5 separate regions of the Homo sapiens genome follow, and regions 1, 2, 3 and 4 are each linked to region 5. The links come from fine-mapping of genetic effects on gene expression. A gene starts in region 5. Each other region holds a variant in brackets. All regions are shown on one strand. Distances are from middle to middle. Region 1 overlaps KCNN3 (potassium calcium-activated channel subfamily N member 3). Region 2 overlaps CHRNB2 (cholinergic receptor nicotinic beta 2 subunit). Region 3 overlaps ADAR (adenosine deaminase RNA specific). Region 4 overlaps KCNN3 (potassium calcium-activated channel subfamily N member 3). Region 5 holds the start of ADAR (adenosine deaminase RNA specific).

Evidence for each region.
Region 1: its variant is fine-mapped to the expression of ADAR in pancreas (GTEx, PIP above 0.99).
Region 2: its variant is fine-mapped to the expression of ADAR in whole blood (TOPMed, PIP above 0.99).
Region 3: its variant is fine-mapped to the expression of ADAR in whole blood (TOPMed, PIP above 0.99).
Region 4: its variant is fine-mapped to the expression of ADAR in whole blood (TOPMed, PIP 0.98).

The regions. Positions count from the first base shown.
Region 1 is chr1:154,781,047-154,786,046 of GRCh38, forward strand. All of the region lies in intron 2 of KCNN3 (potassium calcium-activated channel subfamily N member 3), which reads right to left. Among named protein-coding and RNA genes, the nearest start is that of KCNN3, 87 kb to the right of the region's middle. The variant T/C (reference allele first, on the strand shown) is at 2,851.
Region 2 is chr1:154,574,157-154,579,156 of GRCh38, forward strand. CHRNB2 (cholinergic receptor nicotinic beta 2 subunit) reads left to right here. Exons shown (of 6, transcript NM_000748.3): 6 at 1,606-5,000. The coding sequence ends at 1,776. Among named protein-coding and RNA genes, the nearest start is that of CHRNB2, 8.9 kb to the left of the region's middle. RefSeq lists a silencer at 617-911. The variant T/C (reference allele first, on the strand shown) is at 2,089.
Region 3 is chr1:154,580,387-154,585,557 of GRCh38, forward strand. It overlaps ADAR (adenosine deaminase RNA specific), which reads right to left. Exons shown (of 15, transcript NM_001111.5): 14 at 4,831-4,958; 15 at 1,671-4,657. The coding sequence ends at 4,420. Among named protein-coding and RNA genes, the nearest start is that of CHRNB2, 15 kb to the left of the region's middle. The variant A/T (reference allele first, on the strand shown) is at 2,871.
Region 4 is chr1:154,719,015-154,724,153 of GRCh38, forward strand. The region is part of intron 5 of KCNN3 (potassium calcium-activated channel subfamily N member 3); the gene reads right to left. Among named protein-coding and RNA genes, the nearest start is that of ADAR, 110 kb to the left of the region's middle. The variant A/G (reference allele first, on the strand shown) is at 2,023.
Region 5 is chr1:154,606,101-154,611,271 of GRCh38, forward strand. ADAR (adenosine deaminase RNA specific) reads right to left here and starts at 2,086. Exons shown (of 15, transcript NM_001111.5): 1 at 1,892-2,086. The coding sequence starts at 1,906. RefSeq lists a silencer at 1,860-1,969 and enhancers at 1,970-2,359, 3,029-4,022, 4,106-4,185.

The DNA of each region.
Region 1 (5,000 bases), 170 kb after region 5:
TTTGGTCCGGCCAGGATAGGCTTCTCCTGAGCGCTTCGCCAGAGCTCACTTTTGGTCTCTTGCAGTGTGTAATGACCACTCATGGGGGTTATGGAGTCTGAAGTTTGTTTGGGACTAACAGAGACCAGTGGTGATCATAAATCCTTTCCCCTGTCCTCAGTTCTCAGAGAAAGAAAGCCAAGTTTCGGCATTTGAGCGAGCCACTATTTTTTACTCACGTAGCAGGAATTTCTTGATCCCTGAGCACGTCACCACTAGGGATAGAGCATCCCACCTCTGGCCATCTGTGTGTGGCAAGTCTCTGGACCTCAGATTCCTCAGTGTAATGTGAAGACTTGGATGCAATTTGTGGTTTTCCATTTTCTCTGGGCTGTGGGGCCATTTCTTTCATAAGATTTTTCATGTACGCCCAACATGGGAAACAGACAAATTCAGAGCTGTTGTAGTTGAAAGGGTAGAGAAGAACATTCAAAGATCAACTCACTCACCTCCTCCTCCAGCCTAGGTCTCTGTAGTGGACCCCATGCTCTCCATAGAACCCTTTGACTGGAAATCCTTTGGATGGACCAGCTGGTCTCTAGTTGTAAGGAGAGACAAGGTGTGATGCTGGAAATCAAGTGTTTGGGGTCTGGTTCAAGAGGTGCTCGATGCACAGGCAGGGAGCTTTGCCCCGATCAGCTTATTCACTCATTCATTCATTGAGCATGAGTTGAGCCCCCATTATGTGACAGTCCTTGGTAAGCTCTAGGGATATAGCAAGACAAGTAGACAAGGCCCCTGTCCCCACAGAGCTTACATTTCAGGGGAGGAAAACAGATATTAAACAGGTAAACCATTTAATTTTAGAGAGTGATGCCTGCCAGGAAGAGAATAAGACAGGGCAAAGGAAATGAGAGAAGTCCCAGACAGCCAGGACAGGGAGGGCTCTCTATGGAAGGGACCTCTGAATCCAAAGTGAGCCTTGCAAAGGTATGCATTACAGAGGGGACAGCATGTGCAAAAACCCCAAGGCAGGATGGAGCTTAGAGAGTTGGAGAGATAAAAGAAAGAAGACCAATGTGAGAAAGAAGTGAGGGATGATACCAGGTGAGACCAAGAAGGTAGCAGGACCCAGATCATTGGGACCTTGGATGTCACAGAAGGAGCTTCCTCAAAGGACAGGAGACCACAGACCCACTCCCACCAGGGCCATGTGCACCATGTCACCACTTTCTGAAAACACACTGCCCACAGGTTAAATATGCACCACAGCTCGGGCCTCCGAAACAAAATATCATAGACTGGGTAACTCAAAAAACAGAAATGTATTTTTTCACAGTTCTGGAGGCTGGAAGTCTGAGATCAGGGTGCCAACACGGTCAGGCTCTCTTCCCGGCTTGCAGGTGGCTGCCATCTCACTGTGTCCTCACATGGCAGAGAAAGGGAGAGGGATCTCTCTTTTTCTCTTCTCCTAGAGCTGCAGTCCTATAGGACTAGACCTCATCCTTATGACCTTATTTAAACTTAATTACCTCCCACAGACCCTTTCTCCAAGGCAGTTACATTGGAGGTTAGGGCCTCAACAAATGCGTTTTGGGGAGACACAATTCAGTTCATAGCTATTCCCTTTTGTGTCAAAATTACCCAAAAGCCAGACTGTGGGCCGAGCCAGGTGATTCTGCACATACCATTTCATTGCCATCTCATAATGTCCCTGTAAGGGAGTCATACATCCATTTAGCAGATGAAGAAACCCAAACCAAGACAGGTTCAATCAATTGCCTGGGGCTTGCAGCATTCTGTGTCTTCCAAGTCCCACGCCCTTTCACCTGCCAGCCTGCTAAGCAGGCACTCTATTTGGGGGCTGGCCAGTTTGGGCTTTACTTTGTCTTCTAAAGAAAACTCGGCTGGGCGCGGAGGCTCACGCCTGTAATCCCAGCGCTTTGGCAGGCCGAGGCGGGCGGATCATGAGGTCAGGAGATTGAGAACATCCTGGCTAACACGGTGAAACCCCATCTCTACTAAAAATACAAAAAAACTAGCCGGGCGTGGTGGTGGGCGCCTGTAGTCCCAGCTACTCGGGAGGCTGAGGCAGGAGAATGGCCTGAACCCGGGAGGCAGAGCTTGCAGTGAGTCGAGATCGCACCACTGTACTCCAGCCTGGGTGACAGAACGAGACTCCATCTCAAAAAAAAAAAAAGAAAAAAGAAAAGAAAGAAAACTCAAGCCCACCCTTTAAATGCTCATTCTCAGAAGAATCTTTGCTGACCAGAGAATCAATATATGATTAAAATAAACTGGGTTCTATCCCTGGTGTCCACACCACCTGGGAAACCCACATCGTTATCTGTAATCTAGACTGGGCTATGTTTGTGGAACTAAGACCACGGCTTTCATTTCCACAGATACAATATCCATTTATCATCTTTCCCTTCCTCCTCTTCCCGCCAGTGAACAGGCCTCTATGGAGACCTGGTGATGGGGTCCCTAGCGAGGAAGAGACCATCTTAGTTTAGGAGCCCACTTATGCACCCCAGCATGTTTGCTAATGAAGAAGATTCCTCTGGACAGGCTTGGGGTGGGGTCAGAGGAGACCAACACAGGGCTTAATATATGTGCCCTAGAAATGAACAGGAACACTGGAGATGGGGGATTGTGAGCTGTGGGACTGGAAGGAGAGGGGAGCTGGCTAAGCAGCACCTTGGGCCAGTCCCATGAGAGGGGGAGGCCGGAGCCCACTGAGGACTTGACCACCCATGAGACAGGGACAGTGCTGAGACTGTAAGATCAGGAGCATGTGGCGTTCAGCGCTGTCTTATCTGTTGTGCCACCACCACCTCACCCCTTCCCCTTGCTCCAGATCCATGGAAA[T/C]GTCAGCTAACCTAGAGGCCTTGGTCATGGGTCCCTCGAGGAGCAACAGGAACAGGAAGGGTGCCTAAAGCGGTTACTAAGTACAGGATGGAGGTGGAGAATTCAGCAGAAAGAGTTTGGCATCAGATGAGCTGTCAAGAGAGAAATGGAAGTTTCCAAGCCCCCAGAGACCAGTGGAAAGACACCGGGTCCCCTCCTGTGTGGGGTGGGAGTTTGTAACCAATTATATTTGAAGCAGTAAGGCCAAGTGACCCCGGCCAATCCTTGGGTTGCTGTGGCCACACCTTGGTCTCATCATGTGCTCCACCCCAGCCATCTTTACATTGCTGCCAGAGCAAATGTTCTAAAATACAAACCAAATCATGTCACCTCCCCTTCTAGAACCTTTCCGTGGCAACCCAGAGTGTCCACCCTCCTAGCTGCACTTGGCCAAAAGGGCCTTTTCCCACCTGGCACCAGCTGGCCCCTCTATCCCCATCACCTGCCACACCCGGTGTCTCATCCCAGCTAAACCAAGTTACCAGTAACCCCTAAGCTTGCGCCCTTCCATCTTCTGTACAAGCACTCCCTCTTCTCAGCTTCTTCACCAGAGACCTCCAGATCCAGCGTCCCACCCTTCCACAGGCCTAAGCTGGTCCCTTCTGACTCCCAGGTGGGGCTGGGTGCCTTCCTCCAGTATTCCCCAGGCCCTGTGCCCCCTGCTTGTCACAGAGCCAATCCCCAAATGGCAGCTGGAGAAGGATGGCCAGACAGTTGGGGAGTGCTAGCCCCCGTTTCAGGGGGCGGAGGGAGCAGGGCGGCGGTCTCCATTAACAATGGTAACAGCAGGGGCCATGTATTGCAGCCTCACTGTGCACCAGGTCCTGTGCTGTGTGCCTTACAGGCACCATCTCATTTAGTCCTTAACAGGATTTTGAGACAGGTATTCTTATTTCTATTTTACAGACAGGGAAACTGAGGCTCGGAGAGGCTAAATAATTTACTACAGGTCATACAGTTAATAAGGGGCAGACCTAGGCTCTACAGCCAGGGCAGGCAGCTCTCTTGACTACTGTGTGTGCTGCCCCCAGGCTGTGCTAGGAAGGCTTGTTGGGCTGAGCCCCAGTGTTTGCCTATCCCAGGCCAGGCCAATAGGTGTTTCTGGTTCTTTGTGTGCCTTGGCAGATCCAGGAGTCAAAGGTTTCTGTGCATCTGCTAAGTCTGGGGTAAGAGGTATCGTTTTCTCAACAGGAAGTTTCTGATAAGTTTCTTTCCTTTTGACACATGAAAGGATCCTGCTGAATGTTTGGGGGTAGGGGAGGAACAGCATCATCACTGGGGCTGCTGGGCCCTGATTGGTTCTAAGTCACCTGTTTACCACTAAGGGAGAAATTCTTTAACCCTGGCTTAGGGGATATTTTTAGCAACTAAAAATAAATAGGTTTTTGGATCTTTGAACAGCCTAGGGAGCTGAAGAACTGAGGTCAGGACCAGGTGGTGGTGGTGGGCAGGGAGTGTTTGTTTTTTCCCCAACTGACTAAAAGGCCCTTCACCTCCTTCCCAAGGGCCAGCTGCACTGTCACCCCTTCAGGGGGAGCTTTTCCTGATCTCCCAGTGGCGGGGGCAGCACTTCAAACAGCAACAAGCCATTTGGTGAGTCCAACTTGTTGGCTGGGGCCTAAGCACTTTTCTTTTTCTTTTTTTTTTTTTTTTTTTTTTTTTTTGAGACAAGAGTCTCACTCTGTCTTCCAGGCTAGAGTACAGTGGCACGATTATGGCTCACTACAACCTCTGCCTCCTGGGTTCAAGCAATTATCCTGCCTCAGCCTCCCGAGTAGCTGGGATTAGTACCCAGCTACCACGAGTAGCTGTGCACCACCACACCCGGCTAATTTTTGTATTTTTAGTAGAGGTGGGGTTTTGCGATGTTGGCCAGGCTGGTCTCAAACTCCTAGCCTCATATGATCAGCCATCCTCGGCCTTCCAAAGTGCTGGGATTACAGGCATGAGCCACCACACCTGGCCTCCTAAGCACTTTTCTTTACATCAACTCTTTGAGTCTCACAATAGCCCCATAAGAAAAGTGAACATCCCCCAGACCTCATAGCAACTAAGTGGTGGAGACAGGATTTAAACCAAGAGGCCACACTCTCATCTATTAAGTTTCCATT
Region 2 (5,000 bases), 32 kb before region 5:
CAATTATTAACTTTCACTCTACTATTTGAGAGTAAATTGTAGACACTGTGACCCTTTATCCCAAATAATTCAGTGTGTCTCTCCTAAGAACAGGGACACTCTCTTGCATAACCCAGGTTCAGTGATCGACTGCTGGAAATTTAGCATTGATATCTGTATCTCATATAAATTCAACATTTAAATTTTCCCGATTGTCCCAGTGATGTCCTTTGTAGCATCACCCCCCACCCTCATCCTAATCCAGGGTCTCAAATTACATTTAGTTGTCATGTCTCTAGTTTCCTTCAATCTGGAACAGTTCCTCAGCTTTGTCTTTCATGGCATAAACGTTTTTAAAGGGACCAGGCCGGCTGAATGTCCCTCCGTGTGGGTTTGTCTGATTGTTTCTTTAACTTTTTCCTCATGCAGCTGGTTCTCTCTCACTCATCAGACCTCAGCTTAAATCTCACCTCCTCAAAAAGGCATTCCCAGACCACATTCTAAATGATATCTCCTCCTTTTATCTCAATCCTTTGTTTGCCAGTGTGGAATTTTTAAATTTGTGCTTATTTTTGCTCCACCTCCCTCAGTAGACTGTAAACCACTGGCTGCGTTTCTGTTGCTCATTTGCATCCCCAGTGTGTAGCATGGTGCCAGGTATATAACAGGCACAGTTGCCAAGCGAGTGAGTTCTTCAGCTGCTGACTAAATAAAGATGCTCAGTGGCTGTCTCCCCACCCCCTGAGCTGGCCTGGCTCCAGATAAACACGTGCACAAAGGCCCAGACTCAGGCTGGAGTAGAGCAGCTCTGAGGAGATGCTGGCCGTTTGTGCAAGCCTTGTGACTGGCTCTCAAACCCACAGACAGCATTATCTTTTTGACCGATTTGTTCACATCTGGGACCTGGTCTCACCCTCTGGGGACGTAGTGTGGTTGGATGGGGCTCAGTGTGTGATCATAAAAGGAGCCAGGCCGGCTGAGGCAGCCACTTAACTCACTAAAGCATCAGCCATTTACTTAACACTCTTGTGTTCCAGATGTTGAGATGACAAAGATGAATCAGGGTCCTTGTTTAGGAACTTGTAGCTTAGTAGGGGGACAGGCATGCAAATTGAAACAATACAGTACAGTAAATATACTGTGATGGAGACGTGTACACAGTGCAGAGGGAACCCAGAGCAGACAGCAGTTCATGCTGATCTGGGGATCAAGGCAGCCTTCAGAGAAGGTGATGTTTGATTTGGGCTTTGAAAGATATGTAGGAGTGCACCAGGTAGAGAAAGGGAGCTCAGGATTTCCAGACACAAAGGAAACCCAAAGACACAGAGATCTGGGAGGACACACTAGGGTTTGGTAGGGCTATGTTATGGGGTGGGAGGAGGAGGAGATAGGCTCATATTTGTCGTGGGTGGTCTTGATTCCAGACTGGGGAGTTTGGATGGGCCCTGAAGGCAGTGGGGCCACTGGAGGCTTTTACTAAGATCAGAGCCATGCTTTAACAAGATCATTCTGGGATCACTGCAGGAGAGGAGTGGGGTGTGTGTCTGTGTGGTGGGACCCGCTTATACTCGTTTGTCTCCCATCCTGCATCATGTGACCTGGGCCTCCTCCGTCTCCTCCATCCAGGTGAGTGAGGACTGGAAGTACGTCGCCATGGTGATCGACCGCCTCTTCCTCTGGATCTTTGTCTTTGTCTGTGTCTTTGGCACCATCGGCATGTTCCTGCAGCCTCTCTTCCAGAACTACACCACCACCACCTTCCTCCACTCAGACCACTCAGCCCCCAGCTCCAAGTGAGGCCCTTCCTCATCTCCATGCTCTTTCACCCTGCCACCCTCTGCTGCACAGTAGTGTTGGGTGGAGGATGGACGAGTGAGCTACCAGGAAGAGGGGCGCTGCCCCCACAGATCCATCCTTTTGCTTCATCTGGAGTCCCTCCTCCCCCACGCCTCCATCCACACACAGCAGCTCCAACCTGGAGGCTGGACCAACTGCTTTGTTTTGGCTGCTCTCCATCTCTTGTACCAGCCCAGGCAATAGTGTTGAGGAGGGGAGCAAGGCTGCTAAGTGGAAGACAGAGATGGCAGAGCCATCCACCCTGAGGAGTGA[T/C]GGGCAAGGGGCCAGGAAGGGGACAGGATTGTCTGCTGCCTCCAAGTCATGGGAGAAGAGGGGTATAGGACAAGGGGTGGAAGGGCAGGAGCTCACACCGCACCGGGCTGGCCTGACACAATGGTAGCTCTGAAGGGAGGGGAAGAGAGAGGCCTGGGTGTGACCTGACACCTGCCGCTGCTTGAGTGGACAGCAGCTGGACTGGGTGGGCCCCACAGTGGTCAGCGATTCCTGCCAAGTAGGGTTTAGCCGGGCCCCATGGTCACAGACCCCTGGGGGAGGCTTCCAGCTCAGTCCCACAGCCCCTTGCTTCTAAGGGATCCAGAGACCTGCTCCAGATCCTCTTTCCCCACTGAAGAATTCTGCACCCTCTGGACTTCCCTCTTCTTCCTTCCTTTCTCAGGCTCAAGGTGTGGGGGGCAAGGCTGAGTATTAGGGGAGCTTCTGAGTTCTGAATCTTTGGGTGACCTGCTTGGAGTCTCAGGTCCAAATACTTGAAATCTGTGAGAAGTCCAAGTTCATGGGCTTTTGGAACTGGAAGAACTTTGTACAGCCATGGATTCCAACATAAGCCATGTTGCAGATGAAGAAACTGACCCACACGGTGAGACAAGCACAGGTGGGTCTGACTCTTCCTCCCTGCCCTGAGATCCATCTGTCGAGTGCCCTGTTTTTTCCCCACTTTGAACTGACTGGTTACTCTAAGGAAGTGAACTGAGGATGTTAGCTTTAAGCCAACCCAGCCTCTTTGTCCACAGCAGAGCTGAGGTGAACAGCTGGAACCCTGCTACATCCGTGCTGCTCCAGTCTGTTCTGCTCATGGCTCCATCCTTCTGGCTGTCACTCTTCCTCTTCCCCTTCCCAACCAAACCTGAGCAGCTTTGAAGCAGAACTTGGGAAGGACAGGGCTGCTGCTGCCAGCGACACCTCAGAAAGCATAGCCTCGGCTTCCTGCCCCATGTGTCCCTGGAAGCTGTACCCTGACTCTGCTTCCAGAGGCCAGCAGATGGTGGGTTACAGACGGGTCAGCCTGCCAAGTGCACCTGAGGGACCTGACCTGACACAAGCCATTTTGTCCCTAGAGCCCAGCTGGGACTCCTGCTTCTCTAGGCAGGGCAGAGGGAGGAGACACAGCACAGGCACAGAGCATGGGACAGGGACCCCCGAGTCTGGATTCAAGTCCTGGCCCTGCTAGTAACTCATGTGAGCCAGCTTGAGCAAGTCCCTTCATCTTGCTAGAGCTCAGCTTCCTTGCCTATAAAACGTAGGTGGCAATGCCCTCTTCCTGAGGTTGCTGGGAGGATAAGGCAGTGCTTGTGAAAAAGTCTAGCGCTGTACCTGGCACAGAGTAGATGCTTCATGAATGTTGAGTCTGACAGGCAACTGGAGCTGGTGAGAATGGGGTCCCCTGACTGTCATGCCAGCCTCCCTCCCAGGCCCACTCTTCCCCCCTCTTCCCTGAGGAAACCAAGTCTCCCTTATCAGGAAGAGCTGGGGGAGCTGGGAGGAACATTACAGGAACACCAGAGGGAGTCTAGCGGGTGGGCAGGCTTCTCTCTGCAGCCCCCTCAGCAGTTTCATTCCATTCCTGGGCTGAACCCTTGCCCTGGCCCTGCCTCCCTTCTGGGTCAGCACCTCCTGACACAGGTGTGTGCTCAGGGACCCCAGGCTCTAGTCCTGTACTGGCTGTGGAAGCCTATCACTGGGACAGGAAGCCAGTGGCTGCAGGAGACAGGCCTCAGCGCATCTCGTCTGTCAGGATGGGCTCACGGACACCTTTTCTTGGTAGCAGGGAGTGTCTCTGCACTATGGAAACTTTCCCTCTTCTAGAGCGGATTGGGAGTTGCCTGTATTATGCCTGAACCCTCCTTGAACTCATGGTCCTGGGGAAGGCGTCTTGGAACCAGAAACAGCAACAGGAAAGGAGCCTCCCTCTGAAGGGTAGGATGCCGGCCTGAGGCCCTCCCTCTTGGCTCTCCCAGGGCCTGGGCTACCCCGAGGCCCCAGCAGCTGCTGCTGTGGCTGTACTTGCTTTTAATATTTCCCATACATGGCTGTTGTCCAAGTTAAGTCACCAAATGGTGCTAGAGGGGATGGCAGAGAGCAGCTTGTCCAGCTCCTCTCCATGACCCGGTTAACACACGAGTAAACAGGCCTAGAGCTTGTCTGCTGTTTGACCTCTTTTAAGACCCGGCTGTGCTGCATCTACAAAATGAAGATGACAGAGCTAGCCGAGGTCTTCAGCAAGGAAGAAAGGGGTCAGTGTATATGAAAGGGTTACCTGGGCAGTGTCATTCCCTCCATCTCTGTACGCAGCCCTTTGGGAACCATCACAATAAGGAAGAGGTGAGGGCAGAGGTGAAGGATCCACTGCCCAGGCAAGGTGCTACCATGTGGTGGGAGAGTGTGAACCCTCAAGTGCACTGGGAAGCTTTGGGGAACCACAGTCTCTTCCACCCTTGGGTCGTGTGTCGTCCTCTTCTCTTGATGTCAGGGAAGCCCCTATGCCTCCTTCCCGTGGTGGGGCTATCTCTGCAGAGAATCGGGTGCCCAGCTTAATGCTGGGCAAGGACTGGAGGAAGCTCCAGATCTGGAGGTGGCAGAGATACTGGATGGAAACCTGGAGCAAGGGTTTGGGAGGGGAAGTGAGGAAACAGGTTGAGACTATCTCCATCAGAGATGGCAAGGCCACAGGTGATCTGAGAACTATTTTTGTCTGAAAAGAAGGCATGCACAGGCTCTCTGCTTTTGACAGGTGGCGTTGCAGTGGGAGGAAGGCAGCTTCCTGGCGGGGAGATAGAAATACTAGAACAGCTGGTACCAAGTTATTGAAAATTTAAAAGCAAACAAGACACAGCAGCCCCCAGGTGGTGTGTTCTACTGAGGAAGGCTACGGCAGAGGAAGGGCAAGA
Region 3 (5,171 bases), 26 kb before region 5:
CAGCCCACTCAGGGAGCGTCGTGGGAGGACAGTGTTGTTCCCTCTGGACACAAAGTGGCTGGGCACTTGCCTCAGGCTGAGGAAACTGTCCACTTTTCAAAAGACCTGGCACTACATTTCTGTCCATGTGGAACCGGAGCTGTCTGAGAACAGAGAGGACAGAGGCACTCAAGGTTCCTGGTACATCACAGCAGGCAGAGACAACAGCCTTCACTGTCTTTCCACTTAAAAGTGTTGGCCAGGTGCAGTGGCTCACGCCTGTAATCCCACCACTTTGGGAGGCTGAGGCAGGTGGATCACCTGAGGTCAGGAGTTTGAGACTGGGCTGGCCAACATGGTATACAAAACATTAGCTGGCCATGGTGGCGGTGCATGCCTGTAATCCCAGCTACTCGGGAGGCTGAGGCAGAATCGCTTGAACCCGGGAGGCAGAGGTTGCAGTGAGCCAAGATCGTGCCATTGCCCTCCACCTTGGGCAACAAAAGCGAAACTTCGTCTCAAACAAAACAAAACAAAAAACCAACTTCAGCTTACCCAGCAATGTAGCTCAGTAGGCAATGAATGACACCTGTGGCGTTGTGGTGTTCTGGTCCTCAAGAAATATGCCCACAAACAACATGTCACTGGCCCTTCTAGCCTCAGTTGTTCCTTCTGTGTAATGGATGAGGCAGGTTTAATTGGAACTTAGCCTCACTGTTAGGTACTTTAGATCCTCTGGTTATGATATTATTAAAGGGTCCAGGATGAGTCTTCTAGAAATTCTGATGTAAATTACAATGTGAAAAAAGGTACATTCTCTCTGAAATTCAAGATGGAGAGATAATTTGGATGTCATCTATGATGTAAAAAGAAAATGGTCTGTCTCCTAAAACTACAACCAAGCCTGTCCTGGTCCTGGCTGCAACTTTACTCCAAATATGCACATTCCTGGAAGTCAAACAGCTGGTAGTAGTGGGGTTTGGAGGAGGTAGAAAACACCCCTGAAGGAGAGCTGGAATTATGTACCTAATAGGTGATCCTCTCTCAAGGGATGTTTTCCTACTCTGGGCCTTGAAATCTTGCGTCTCAAGTCCCGTGGGACAAGATATTTAATAGTGGGCTCTGGCTGGGAGCAGTGGCTCACGCCTGTAATCCCAGCACTTTGGGAGGCTGAGGTGGACCTCACGAGGTCAGGAGATTGAGACCATCCTGGCTAACACGGTGAAACCCCATCTCTACTAAAAATACAAAAAAATTAGCCAGGCGTGGTGACAGGCGCCTGTAGTCCCAGCTACTCGGGAGGCTGAGGCAGGAGAATGGCGTGAACCCGGGAGGCGGAGCTTGCAGTGAGCCGAGATCGCGCCACTGCACTCCAGCTTGAGAGACAGAGTGATACTCCATCTCTAAATCAATCAATCAATCAATCAATCAATCAATCAATCGTGGGCTCTGCTGGGGAAGGGCCCTGCTGGGTACGTAATCAAAAGGTGCCTGATGAACCCCACCCCACCCAGACGCAAATTTACCCACAAAGGGAGGTTCTTTGAAATGGCTCCTTTCCAAAGGCTGAGGGACAGCCCTGTCCCCCACAGGTTCATGTCAGATGCCACTGGTGCTGTTATCAGAAACCCCAGGGCCACAGGTCCCTTTGTTCCCATTTTCACCTCCCCCAAGAAACCAGGACTTAAAACTTTCTAAGAATTCAGATTCTTGTTTTTTTTTTATTTATGAGGAATGTATATTGTTAAGTCACTGTTATCAAGGGACACATAAAAGCAGAATCATAAAACTGGACTGCAGCCATCATCACAGTACCCGAGTCTATGCTTGGGGGTCTTCCTCACTCTGCTCTTGGAGTCACAACCAAGACTCCAAAAAACCAACGAAGTCCCTTCAATGTGAGTAAAGGAAACAGCTTCAAGCACTGACAATTTTTACAAGTGATTATTCAAGGAATGCACAGTAGCCACAGTTCAGACAAATCAACTACAAAAATCATTAAAAAGAAGAGTAGGGAGGGTCACTGCTTATTAAAAACAAAAGACTGGACAAAGAAAGTGAAGATAACAGTGGGCAGAAGCTCTGCCTCCTCTGTCCTGTGTGACTCAGAGGGGCATGGGGGCGCAGGGATGTGCGATCTGACACGGCTCGTTTCCAGCAGATGCGTGGAATTCAGGGATGCCTCGCTCTCTTCCTACAACAGAAACTGAATACTACAGGCTTGCTAGATAAGATCTTGGGGGTGAGTGGGGGTTCTGATCTTGTGAGAGCCTGTGTTCCCAGTTAAAGAAGAGGCAGCTGGCCAGAGCTCTGCTGGAGAACCTAATGCCCAAGATGGACCAGAGAGGCCAAACAACCTGAGGACTCAGCAGGTGACAACCCTGTAGCCTGAAGAGGAGAGGGGCTGCGCTGCCTTCTGATGCTGAGAACCACAGACCTCTCTGCCCTGGATGTGGGTGCCAAGACTGATTTACTGTGCCCCCAGCAGACCCAGAGCCAGGGAGCAGGCCTCTTCCACTCCAGGAGACAGGCGCCACTTCCCTACCAGTTCCTTGGGATGCTTTGGTGTTCTGCAAAGGCATCCTTAGTCTATTTTTAGAACTTGCATTTTCTTACTTTGGTCAATTTTTGGTCAAAAGTACAGAGAGCATAGAATAAAAGCAAAGATGTGAATGTCTCTACCAGACAGAGGATGACCTAGTCAGCAGTTTGGAGGGAAATCATCTGAGGGTGCTGGCTCAGCACGTTCCCAGATGAAGGTCTGTCATCTAAAGGAGAGAGGCAGGCTCAGCTCCTGAAGGTCGCAGAGCCTCAGTAGTCCTCCTGAGTGTGTCTAGCTGACTGTTATCGAGGGACACGTAAAAGCAGCATCACAAAACTGGACTGCAGCC[A/T]TCACCACGGCACCAAGTCTATGCTTGGGCTCTTCCCTGCTCTGCTCTTGGAGTCATGACCAACACTCTAAAAGCCAACAAAGTCCCTTCAACATGAGTAAAGGAAACAGTTTCAAGCACTGACAGTTTTTACGAGTGACTATTCAAAGAATGCACAGGAGCCAGAGAGCCAGACTCCACAGAGAGGCCAAAGGCTCTGAACACACGAGTCAATGTTCATGGAGGTATAGACAAAGGATTCTACCTCACAGAGTTTGAAGACAACCTGCCCTTTCACCCACAACTACTGCTTTCTATGTCAACCCTATAAAGATCAGGTCTGCGCCCTGCCCACGAGCCTACTTCTGAAGCCATCTGGAAAAATGAAAGCACTTGGATAAATGGAAAAGTATGCCTGAATTTTAAATCTGCTCAATTACAGGTTATCTGTAGCAGTTAAGAATCAACATCTATGGCATTCTTTAAAACACTCCTAATTTACATGTGACTTAGTCAACTTCCCTTGGTGTCACTGTCATGAGAGATATTACACCGGGTGGAACAGTGACGTTAAGCCAACAGGATTTTTTGCCCTTATTCTTGCTAAGTCATGATTATCTGAGCAGAGATGATTTTATACCCTCTAGGATTTGTCCCGTTGGCTAGGGTGTACGCCCAGCATTGGCGGGGAAAATATTCCTAGGAATGCTTTAGGAGAAGAGGCAGCTGGAAGCTTGGCAATATTCCAAGGCATGCCCGTGCTCCCTGGGAAGTGGTCTGTGTCATCCTGCCGGGTGAAACCTCTGCTATTGCTTGAGCAGCTCCCTTAACCCAGTCTGGCTGGTTCTAGACTTCCCAGCTGCCGGAGAAAGTGATACACTTCCAGGGAAGCAGCTTTCCTTGCCTTGCCCGCCCTGCAGCTGGCTAAAGTGCAGGATGGGAGGATGGCTGGGCATTATCTGCAGGCTCCAATCACACTTCCGTGGCACTGGGAACTGCAGTTTTCAACTCCTACCCTTACAAATGTTTCACCAAATCCTTTATGTTCACCTCTTTGCCCTCTGAGGGGGAAAAGGAGACATTCAGATCACAAGGAAAGAATCTCAGAAGGGAAAGAGGGGAAGTAGAGGGGTCTGCGTAATCCACAAATGAAATTATCAGTCCCTGACATGATCCAGAGTTGACTGAAACCTAATCAAGACCGCAAGAGGTCAGTGTAGCAAACACAAAGGGAAAGGAAATGGAAACAAATCAAAACAAAACTTTTAAGAGGAAATGGACCGCAGGTGCTCAGTGACTATGTATGCTTTGGGTAGAAAGAAAAGATAACTTCTTAGGTTTCTGCCTCTTCACTTGGGGGAAAAAAGGGGGGCCTGGCCAGACCTTGCCTAGCAATCCCAAAGAAAGCAGGATAAATGGGAACCCAAAGTTTTCAGTATCACCAATTATGGCTTAAAAAGAAAAAAAAAGGAGAAAAAAAAATCCCCTGACCATGTGATGAGGAATGCTACGACCTACCTCTCTCACACCCTAGTATGACACACCCTAATCCATCTGTCACTGGAGCATACTATACTGGGCAGAGATAAAAGTTCTTTTCCTCCTGGGGTTTGCTAATCCAGTTCCCATAGCCCATATCCTTCAGGCCTTTTTTGAAGTAGTTCTTGGCCGTCTCGTAGTCACGGGCAGCTTTCTTGGCCTCACCATAGGAGAGTCTCAGTAGATCCCTGCGGTAACGGAAGGAGCAGAGCTTCTTAAATAGAAGAAAAATGTTCTTTTTGGAGACCCGGGACAATTCATTCCGTGGCCTAGAGAAACAAAAGCACTCATTATTCACCTGGGACCTGTAAGATAAGGAGCTCACAGTGGAGACACCGTGGGAGGGGAGGCGGCTCTCAAGCCCTGAGACTGCAGAGGTATGATGCACCCTTGCAAGTCAGGGCAGAGGCTTGGTCCTCACTGCGCTCTCCTGTCTCCTTACCCATCCACAGTGCCTCTGGTACCGTCCAGGATCTCCAGGTCATAGCCATCAGCCAGACACCAGTTGACGCTTGTCTCCTTAGTCTTCCCGGATTGCCTTTTGGAATCATATATGCTGACTCTGCCAACCTAGGAATCCCAGAAGCAACGGGAGAAAGATGGAAACCTTTCAGGAATAAGATTCTGAAGCAGGGACTCAAGACTCATAGGAGAGAGGAAGTGTGGGGTCATGATCTTTCCCCTGTATTTAGGGTTCTGTTTGGCTAAGACTGAGCACCCTCTAGACATACTAACTCCACCTCGATTCAGATTAATTCCAGACTAAGAGAAGAAAAGCCCTTG
Region 4 (5,139 bases), 110 kb after region 5:
TGGCCACCTCTCTGCCCAGGTAACCTGCTACTTGCTATTACAGAGGGGCTGTCGGTTGCGGCAAGAATGCTTGGGGCAGGAGTACAAGGGGGATGAAAGGAGCACCTTTCTTGGGCACCCTAAGCCTCCAGCAGCCCCAGGAGCCCTGGGAAATTCCAGGGGTCCCATTAGCAGAGCCCCCCAGAGAAGAAATCACTAGCATGCCCATTATGCTGCCAGGAACCCTTGCCAGGGAAGTATTCTACTTGGAGGTTGGAGACGGGGAAAGGGAGGCCTGGCCGGTGGGTGTGATTTAAATACACACATCTTGGACAATTTCTTCAGTGTGTGAACATCACAGAGTGTACTTAAACAAACCTAGATGGGACAGCCTACTACACACCTAGGCTGTATGGTATAGCCTATCGCTCCTAGGCTACAAGCCTGTATGGCACATTCCTGTACTGTAGGCCACTGTAACACAAATCACTAGGGGAGAGGAATTTTTCAGCTCTGTTATAGCCTTCTGAGACCACCTTGGTATATGTGCACCATCATTGACTGAAACTTGTTATGCAGTGCATGACTGTAACTTCAAGGAGTTACACAGGTTGAAATTAGGCTGAGTGATGATCAGATCACTATCGGAGAACCTGCAAGCCAGCCCTTGACTGAAGGTGTCCATTACACACAGGACTAGAGAAGGGGGCTGGTTCCTCTTTCCCATTTGCCAAGCCCACTCTCCCCTCATCACCACCCTGCAGACTTGCTCTGGCTTCCCCGGCTGCCCTCTCTTTCATCACCCTGCTTGCACCTCCTCTTTTTCCTCCCCCTGTTCTATTCCACACTCCCTTTACAGGCTTCTCTGCCTGCCTCACCCAGAGGCCCTCACTGACCACTTAGAACTGGGAGCTCCACCTCTCTGGCTGGCAGGAAATTGGGTAGAGAGAGAGGAGGTGTATTTCCGTTGTTCAGAGTTGGAGCTTGAGGTTCTCCCTGTAGCAATATGGTAATGGGTGGTGGATAATTCTATAATGCTATTTATGTGATACTCAGTTAGGGTGGAGTTAAGCTGGCTTTTCTTTTCAGCAGGTCTGGGACCCTAACCCCATGCTGAGTTCCAAGGAACTGACCGCCCTAAAGCTGCCTGCCTGATGGTCTGAGAGCAAAGTGGATCTTGCATAGGCCGGGGGCCCACCCTCGCCCCTTTCTGGGCCTTCGTCTTCTCATGTGGGTTGGAGTGGCTCTTCCCTAAGGGTCCTTCCAGCTTAAACGCACATTGTTTCTGTGACTATTGCTAAAGAAAACCTGCACCCAATCTGTCTGGGACAGAACCTTGTGCGTGATGTAATTTATAATCCTCTTCTGGGGAGAATTAGCATTCCTGATAACTGCCCTATTGATTATCTGATCCATTGTAAAGACTTGAAGACTTGTTCTGGAAATCCACTGTTGAGCCCAACCAGCTGTCCATTAGCAGTCTTTAGCTAAACCTTCTATAATCTGGCATAACAATGACTACCATTGTTTTTCCTACGAAATACCACTACTAAGAGTAATCTTTGAATTAGCCTGCTGAAGAAAATTTTCTTCTAGCAAGATTATGATCAAACTTTGGCATATGCTTGTAATTAAAGAAAAGTTTTCTTCAGTGTCATTCAGGAGATAGTAGGTGGGGAAACTACTTAAAGGTTTTTGAGCAGGAAGTAATTTGTTCAGAGCTAAGCCTGAGAGTCTAAGGAGATCCATGGGGAAGCAGAGTGCAGGATGACTGGGGTAAGGGACGCCGAAGTGAGGAGAGCAGGTAGCAGGCTGCTGTGATAGTGCGAGACAGAAGATGGCGGCTTCAAGAGTGGCGGGGCCGAGGCCCTGGAGAGGCGGGCATGCGTGAACAGCCACGGCAAGGTGAAATCAGACACAGAAAGTGCTCAGACCCTCGTGGGGTCCAGGGTCCAGAGGAGTCAGAAATGGGGCTAAGTCTTTAGGCCTGGCGTCTGGAAGAACACGATGTCAGGAGCACACCAGGGAAGTTAGGAGAAGGAA[A/G]TAGTTTAGGGAAGTTGTGGGTTTAATTTTGGTCTTATTCATTGAATTCATGGGGAAGTGTACTTGGGTGAGCTACTTGGGGCAAGAAACCCCTGCAGCAAGAAGGAGATAGGATCCTTAGCACACTGTGCTGTCTGAAGGTTCTGCTCACTGTGGCTTGATGTGGAGAGTAGGTACCGCAAAGAAAATATCTCCGGTCCATGGTGCCTCCCAAGCCAAGTGTGTCCATAGCAGCCCACTCTGCCTTTTTTTTCTTTTTCTTTCCTTTTTTTTTTTTTTTTGAGATGGAGTCTCACTCTGTCACCCAGGCTGGAGTGCAGTGGCACGATCTCAGCTCACTGTAACCTCCGCCTCCTGGGTTCAAGCAATTCTCCTGCCTCAGCCTCCCGAGAAGCTGGGATTACAGGCACCCACCACCATGCCCGGCTAATTTTTTGTATTTTTAGTAGAGACGGGGTTTCACCATGTTCGCCAGGCTAGTCTTGAACTCCTGACCTCAAGTGATCCGCCCACGTCGGCCTCGCAAAGTGCTGGGATTACAGGCGTGAGCCACCGCACCCGGCCCACTCTACCTCTTATAAGAAGAAGTGCTCTCTGAGGGCAGTCAGCCACCAGAGGTTAGGGATGGAGGTGAGGACCACCTCTTACCCATCTTGGTGCCCCCAGAGTACAGAGTGTGGCACCCAGGGAGTGGCCTCTGTGATGGATCTGTTTAGCTACATAAAACAGAAAGATGGGGACATGAAAACACTAAGTGGCAGAAAAGATGGGGCTCTAGTATCTTTCTTCCAGTCCCTCTGTGAATCATGTACTTAAATATTATCTAGTAGCCCAGAGATTAGCAATAAGTTATAATTACAGAATAACAATGGCAGTGACACTGCGAAGTCAGTGTGGGAAGATCTGATTGAATTAAATACAGAAATGACGTTGCCACCAGAGTTGATAAGTCATACGAGGAAAGAAGATAAGCATGGGACTCAAGAAAAGCAGAAATTGAGTTCTTACCCAGTGCTATCAGACCCTCTTCCCTCCCTACAAACAAATAAATAAAAATAGTGCTGGCTCTCATGGCAAAGGCTAGGCTGCAGTCTTTAGAGCAAGACAGGATGAATAAATACTAGAACAATTTGAGTATTTTCTATGATTAATAGCTACAATTCCTTTTTTCGTTTTGCGTAGGTCTTTGAAGCATCAAGGTTGCATATACCGGTAAGAGACTGCTTTTATCTGTCAAATCTACTAATTGCCCACTCCGAAGAGGTTGCAATTATGCCACAGTCAACTCCTTCATGTTGGATCTTTCTCTGAGAATTCACTGAGATGTTATGAATAGACTGAGCTTAGCATTTTTTTTTTTTTTTTTTTTGAGATGGAGTCTCGCTCAGTTGCCCAGGCTGGAGTGCAGTGGCACGATCTCGGCTCACTGCAACTTTCGCCTCCCAGGTTGAAGCGATTCTCCTGCCTCAGTCTCCCGAGTACCTGGGGCTACAGGCACGTGCCACTACGCCCGGCTAATTTTTTTGGATTTTTTTTTAGTAGAGACAGCGTTTCACTGTGTTAGCCAGGAAGGTCTCAATCTCCTGACCTCCTGAGCCATCTGCCTCGGCCTCCCAGAGTGCTGGCATTACAGGCATGAGCCACCGCGCCCGGCCAAGAGCTTCTAAGGATCATGTCTGAGAGTGAGTATTTCTTTTTTTTTTTTTCTTTTTTTTGACAGAGTCTTGCTCTGTTGCCCAGGCTGGAGTGCAGTGGTGGGATCTCGGCTCACTGTAAACTCTGCCTCCCAGATTCAAGCGATTCTCCTGCCTCAGCCTCCTGAGTAGCTGGGATTACAGGTGTGTGCCACCACGCCCCACTAATTTTTGTATTTTTAGTAGAGTCAGGGTTTCACCATGTTGGTCAGGCTAGTCTCGAACTCCTGACCTCATGATCCACCCACCTCGGCCTCCCAAAGTGATGGGATTACAGGCGTGAGCCACCGCACCCGGCTGCTTAGCATCTTCTTGACCAATGAGCCACTCCAGCTTGATACAATGGACCATTTCAAGAGGACAGAAGGCAGGCCAGGCATCCCCAGGGGAAGAGAGGTGGGGTTCTCTTGTGAGCAGGTCAAAGTCAGCTCAAACCAGAGCAGGCCAAGGATGCACACATCCAGTTTCATTTCAATTAAGGTTATGTAAAAGAACCTTCAGAAGTTCTAGTCCTGCCAGCTTTGAAAACCTTCTCTCTGTAAGAACCATCCCTTCTGTGTTGTTTATTTCCTTGAGAAAAGATATTAGATATTAAAGAGACATTTCAACAGATTTAAGTGTTCTCAGAAAAGTGAGATGTTATTCGATTAAAAAGCTACCTTAGATTCATGGGTGAGCAATAAATATTTGTTGATTTGATTTTCAGTCCTACTTTTCAAGAAGTGGAATTGAGGAGGATGTTAGGGAATCATTTTTGAAAGATTAAAATTAGCAACCACAGTCTCATCTTCTACAATTATATTGCAGAAAAATTGTTTATTTTCCTGGCATACAAAGGAGCTGGCTTTCCTCAGCTTTATTTTCCTCTAGCGTCTGATCTACTTGGTGAAAAATGGAGAGGACAAAGGAATAACACCAAATACAAAGAATATTCTTGGCTTAAAAAAGAAAACCAGAATAAACAGAGAGACTGCTAATGTCTCTACTCTTGGTAAACAGCTTATGAGAAGGCTTTGGAGGCAAAACATCTCCCTGCCCTCACTCCGGCACGTAGTTTCAATCCAGTGAAACCTCAGTAAATTGCTTCAGGAAAATAGATGCAAGTGGATTTGCATTTAGGTGTTTCAATAACTTGAATAATTTCCTCAATACTGAGCATGACTTTTGCACCCATTATTAGAGGGGGCTGAAAGAGAGTGGCCAAGTGGCAGGGTTCCCGGCAGGCCTTACTGTGATAACAGCCTTCAATCACTGCCATCGTGATGTGACAAATCATGGCTTTTTTTGGTGCAGCTGATAGCTCAGGGCCATGATGTATCAAGTACAAACACTTGAATGTCAACAACATAAGAATATTTGCCCGTACCAGTTCCTTTTAATGTCTGTTAAGGCTCTTTACAGAATCCAATAAATGTAATCAAAG
Region 5 (5,171 bases):
GTGTGATCTCAGCTCACTGCAATCTCCGCCTCCCGGGTTCAAGTGATTCTCCTGCCTCAGCCTCCGGAGTAGCTGGGATTACAGGCGCACGCCACCACACCCAGCTAATTTTTGTATTTTTAGTAGAGATGGGGTTTCACCATGCTGGCCAGGATGGTGTCGATCTCCTGATCCGCCCTCCTCGGCCTCCCAAAGTGCTGGGATTACAGGCATGAGCTACCACGCCCGGCCAGTTATTTTATTTTTTTAAAATGTGTCATATCTATTTGTATTCACCTGGGGATAATTTAGGAATCATATAATGTTCAATAAAACAACAAAAAGTTGTAGAATAGTATGTACATTATAATTTTTTTCCCTAAACAAAAAGAGAAAATCCATGAATGTGTATGTGTGCGCACAATGGAATGAACACAGAGAAAAGAAAGGAGATGTAAGTTTGCTAAGGATATCTTAGGGCAGTAGGGTTAGAGGGAGAGGAGGAGATTATTAATCTTTCTTTTTGCCCCCCTTAAATCCCCTAAACACCAAGCCACCGTTGAGTACAGCCATTTGGAAAGCTACGGAATAGGAGAGCAAGAAAGTGAGCAAGCAACCCACAGTGATCCTTTCTAAATCTCTCAGCATCACCTCTATGCAAATTACATAACAACTCATTTAACATTCATTGCCTCCCAGATTTCACTTTAATCTGGTCTCACATATTTAGGATCAAGAGATAAGCACTACCCCCTTTGCCTTTACCACACAGGTTCCACAGTGCAATACACTGACACCTGTGCAGAAATGCTTTTCCTTCAAGTTAGGCGTCCTTAATCCTTTCAAAGGAGTGCTTAAAAAAAAAAAAATATATATATATCTTAACAAAATTGAGGTATATAATTTAGATACAGTAAAATTTATCCTTTTAAGTGTATAAATCTATGAATTTCGACAATCGCCACCACAATCAAGATATAGAACATTTCTATTTCCCTAAAAAGCTTTTTCATGCCACTCAACAATCAATTTCTTCCACGATACCCAGTCCCTGGCACCCACGGATCCACTTTCCATCCCTATAACTGTGGTTTTTTTTTTCCAGAATGTCATATAAATGGACTCATACAGTATGCAGCCTTTTGAGTCTGGCTTCTCGTGCTTAGCATAACGCACTTGCGAGTCACCCGTGTTGTTACTTGTAACAGTATTTCCTCTTCACTACTAAGCAGTATCCCATTATGTGGATGTATTTCAGTTTATCTGTTAACCTGCTGAAGGCCATTTGTGTTTTCCCAGTTTTTAGCTATAAAGTGGTTAACAAGCTTTCTCCTACAGCTTAAGTGCCATTTTTAACTCCCAGAAGGCCTTCAGGAGGTGGATAAGGTGAGCTGAGGATAGTGTGCGCTGCTCAAAGTCCGAACGTTGTTCAAGTGGGGCTAAAGCGGGGGTAGGGGGTTCCACAAGGGGCCCTAGCAGAAAGGGAGACGATGTGTCTGCCTTGACATGGGCTCAGGCCTTCCTACTCAGACGGGGGCGCATTTTCCCCCAAGCCCTCTTCACGCACTGCTCCATTCTGCAGAATTAATGAGCAGGATACAAATTCACAAATTCCTAAACCAGCAATGCTGCTTGGCAAGACTACACACACACGCACACACACACACACACACTCTCACAAGACGCACAAATTCCTAAACCAGCAATGCTGCTTGGCAAGACGACACACACCCACACACACACACTCACAAGACGCACAAATTCCTAAACCAGCAATGCTGCTTGGCAAGACGACACACACACACACACTCTAACACTCACAAGACGCACACGCTACGCACTGCAACACAAAGCCTGTGAGGTTGTAAACGAACCCAGACGGCGGCGAAGGTCCAAGGCCGGCCCGGCTTACCTGCCGCGGATTCATTGCGCCCGCGAGGCATTGCCCGGCCCGACCCGCCGGCGGCACGACCCTGGCCCGACCGCTGGGCCGCGCCAGCCCCTCGAGGCCCCCACGCCTCCGCTACTCCGCACTGGAAGTGGCCCCGGGGCGTCGGCACGGGAAACTCCGCGGGTCTGCGCGCCGGGCCCAAGATGGCTCCGGTTCAATTTCGCTTTCGTTTCCTCGGAAAGCCTTCCCCTCCGGAAAGTTTGGCCAAGAGGAGGGGCTTGAGCAAATCTTGCGCCACGCTTGGTTTCAGGCCGGTTACAAGTCGAACCCCTCCGCTGCATGAGAACTACGGAAGGTACTTTTTTTTTTTTTTTTGAGGCGGAGTCTCGCTCTTTTTGCCCAGGCTGGAGTGCAATGGCGCAATCTCGGCTCACTGCAACCTCTGCCCCCCGGGTTCAAGCGATTCTCCTGCCTCAGCCTACGGAGTAGCTGGGATTACAGGCGAGCGCCATCACTCCTGGCTTTTTTTTTTTTTTTTTTTTTGTATTTTTAGTAAGAACAGGGTTTCACCACGTTAGCCAGGGTGGTCTCGAACTCCCGGCTTCAAGAGATCCGCCCACCTCGGCCTCCCAAAGTGTTGGGATTACAGGCGTCAGCCCCCGCGCCCGTCCGGTACTGTTTAGGAAAACCGCCGTTTCAGTACTGAGCTCCTAATTCCCCGCACAGGCCGTAGGCAGGAATACACGAATAGAGCAAAAGGAAAACAAAGGCACACAAAACCTCAGGCCAGAAACAGCATGACGCCCGGTCCTCCCTCTCTCCGCGCCAGCGCGGTGGTGGCCGCGTCTCCAATGTGGAGGGGGGGGGGAGGGGATGGGCGGGAGCGCAGATCTCGTCAAACGACCAAGGTCCCCACCGTGGGACCTTGTTAATGCTCCTACTATGTTATAAACTTAAGCAAGCAGATGCCAGCCAGTAAAAAGTACCAAGAGTAGCAACAGCAGCAGTGAACAATTTAGGATCTAGGTCATAAAAACTACCCCACCAGGCAAATGGTTAAGTACTTTACATGTATTATCTCCCTTAATCTTCACAACAGCCCTCCAAGGTAGGCATTATTCCCACTTTGCAGGTGTAGAAACCGAGGCTTGACTAAGGCCACGCTGCTGCCAAATCCAGGTCTGAAGGCTTTAGTAAAGCTCAGTCTTCAGCGCTTCTCTACACTCATTCAAATTACACCATTACTTTCAAAAAGATAACTTTTGTTATCTAGAGGGACAAAAGTCAAATTTGCTTCATGGTCAGGCTTCTCTAACTGCTGGATTTTTGTTCAAGGTATCTGGGAAACGATTATTCTAGGGTTCAACACCATCCTCACCTGTGAGAATGTTCTTTCCCTGTGTTTAATCTTAATTTTACCCCCATGCTTATGAAATTACAAGGCAGTCCCTTTATAGCAGTATCTCCAGCTGATGCCCTTTCATGGTGTTAGTCACTCCAAATTAACATTCCCTTGCAGGCTGGGCTCTGTCTTCCTTCTGGGCCTTTGCACATTCTATTCGTTGGCCTAGCATGCACCTCCTCCACGGCTTCCCGTGAATCAACCTTTCAAATTTACAAGGGAGGCCTTCCCCACAGCAGGTAGGGGGAGAGGAGGGGGAGCAGGTGCTGTTTGTGGTTTCCTACTCCATGCTTCTCGAGTTACTGGGCGCCTACCCCTAATAGGGCACTTGCACACTGCGCTAAAAACGCCCCATTCGATCATTTAACAAAACTTTACTAAGCACCTAATTATGTGGCAGATACTGTGTTAAGCACCCAGGATATGACACAAATAAGAGCGCCATCCTTTAGCTAGTCTGCTAGGGAAGATGGATGCCTCAGTAATCACAATTATCATGTACTTCTTGTTCATATATCTGCCTCTAGAATTGTCAAGTCATCTCCTCGGGGGCAGGAAGCATGTTTTGTATCCTTATATTCGCCTTCAGAGGGCTGGTTAGTTGAAAGAATAACAGACCCCTCAGTAGGTATAACAATGGGCAAAAACAATCGAAAGACAACTTCACAGGAGATAAAAAATATCAAACATATGAAAAGGTTCTCAACCCCATCACATCAGAGAAATGCACAGTATAGCTACAGTGAGCTACTGTCCATTCACCAGACAGACAGCATTAGCCATCTGATTAGACCAGGTGGCAGCAAGGATGCAGAGCAGCTCTTAGTCACTACAGGAAACCAGTTTACCATTATCTAGAAAGGTAATGGTAAACCCCAAGAAGTTCATGGTTGCATTATTTGTAATTAATAGCCCCCAAACTGGAAACAACCCAAATGTCCATCAAAAGTAAAATGGATAAATGGTGGCATATGCCCATGATGGAATACAATACAGCAACAAAAATGAAAGATCTACGCATGCAACAAGGTAGCTAATTATCTAAATATGATACTGAGTGGGAAAAGCCATATGTATACTATATGATCCCACTTACAGAAAGTCCCAAGCCAGGCAAAACCAAACTATAGTATGCTCTGCATAAAAGACAAAATGAGGCCGGGCGCAGTGGCTCATGCCTGTAATCCCAGCACTTTGGGAGGCCGAGGTGGGCGGATCACGAGGTCAGGGGATCGAGACCATCCTGGCCAACATAGTGAAACCCCATCTCTACTAAAAGTACAAAAAATTAGCTGGGCATGGTGGCGTGTGCCTGTAGTCCCAGCTACTGGGGAGGCTGACGTGGTAGAAACGCTTGAAGCAGGGAGTCGGAGGTTGCAGTGAGCCAAGATTGTGCCATTGCACTCCAGCCTGGAGACAGAGCAAGACACCGTCTCAAAAAAAAAAAAAAAGAAAAAAAAAAAAAAAAAGACAAAATTGTGGTTAATCACTTCTAGGGAGAAAGGTGGGAGTTTTGACTGGGAAGAAATCTTTTGGGTACCGGTGATGTTCTAGCTCTTGACTTGGGTAGTGGCTACATATGTTTGCTTTCCAATAATTTCATTATACATTTACGTTTTATTCATGTTTCTGTATATATATGCTGTATTTCACAAATTTAAAAGGTAAAAACAAACAAGAACCACAACAAACTCTTGCTGTTGCAATTCCAGTCCACTTCCCCATGTTTTTTTTCCTCCGTTTAAGTAACAGGAGTTATATCTTACCTCTGCTTTCTTGTCTTCAGGCAAGACAATCTGAAAGCCTTTACCCTTCTTCAGAAATGATCCAGAAAAGCTTTAATCACAACTACTGTGCGAGGGAAGCTGCACCGCTGCTCCCCCCACCCCTTTTAATCTA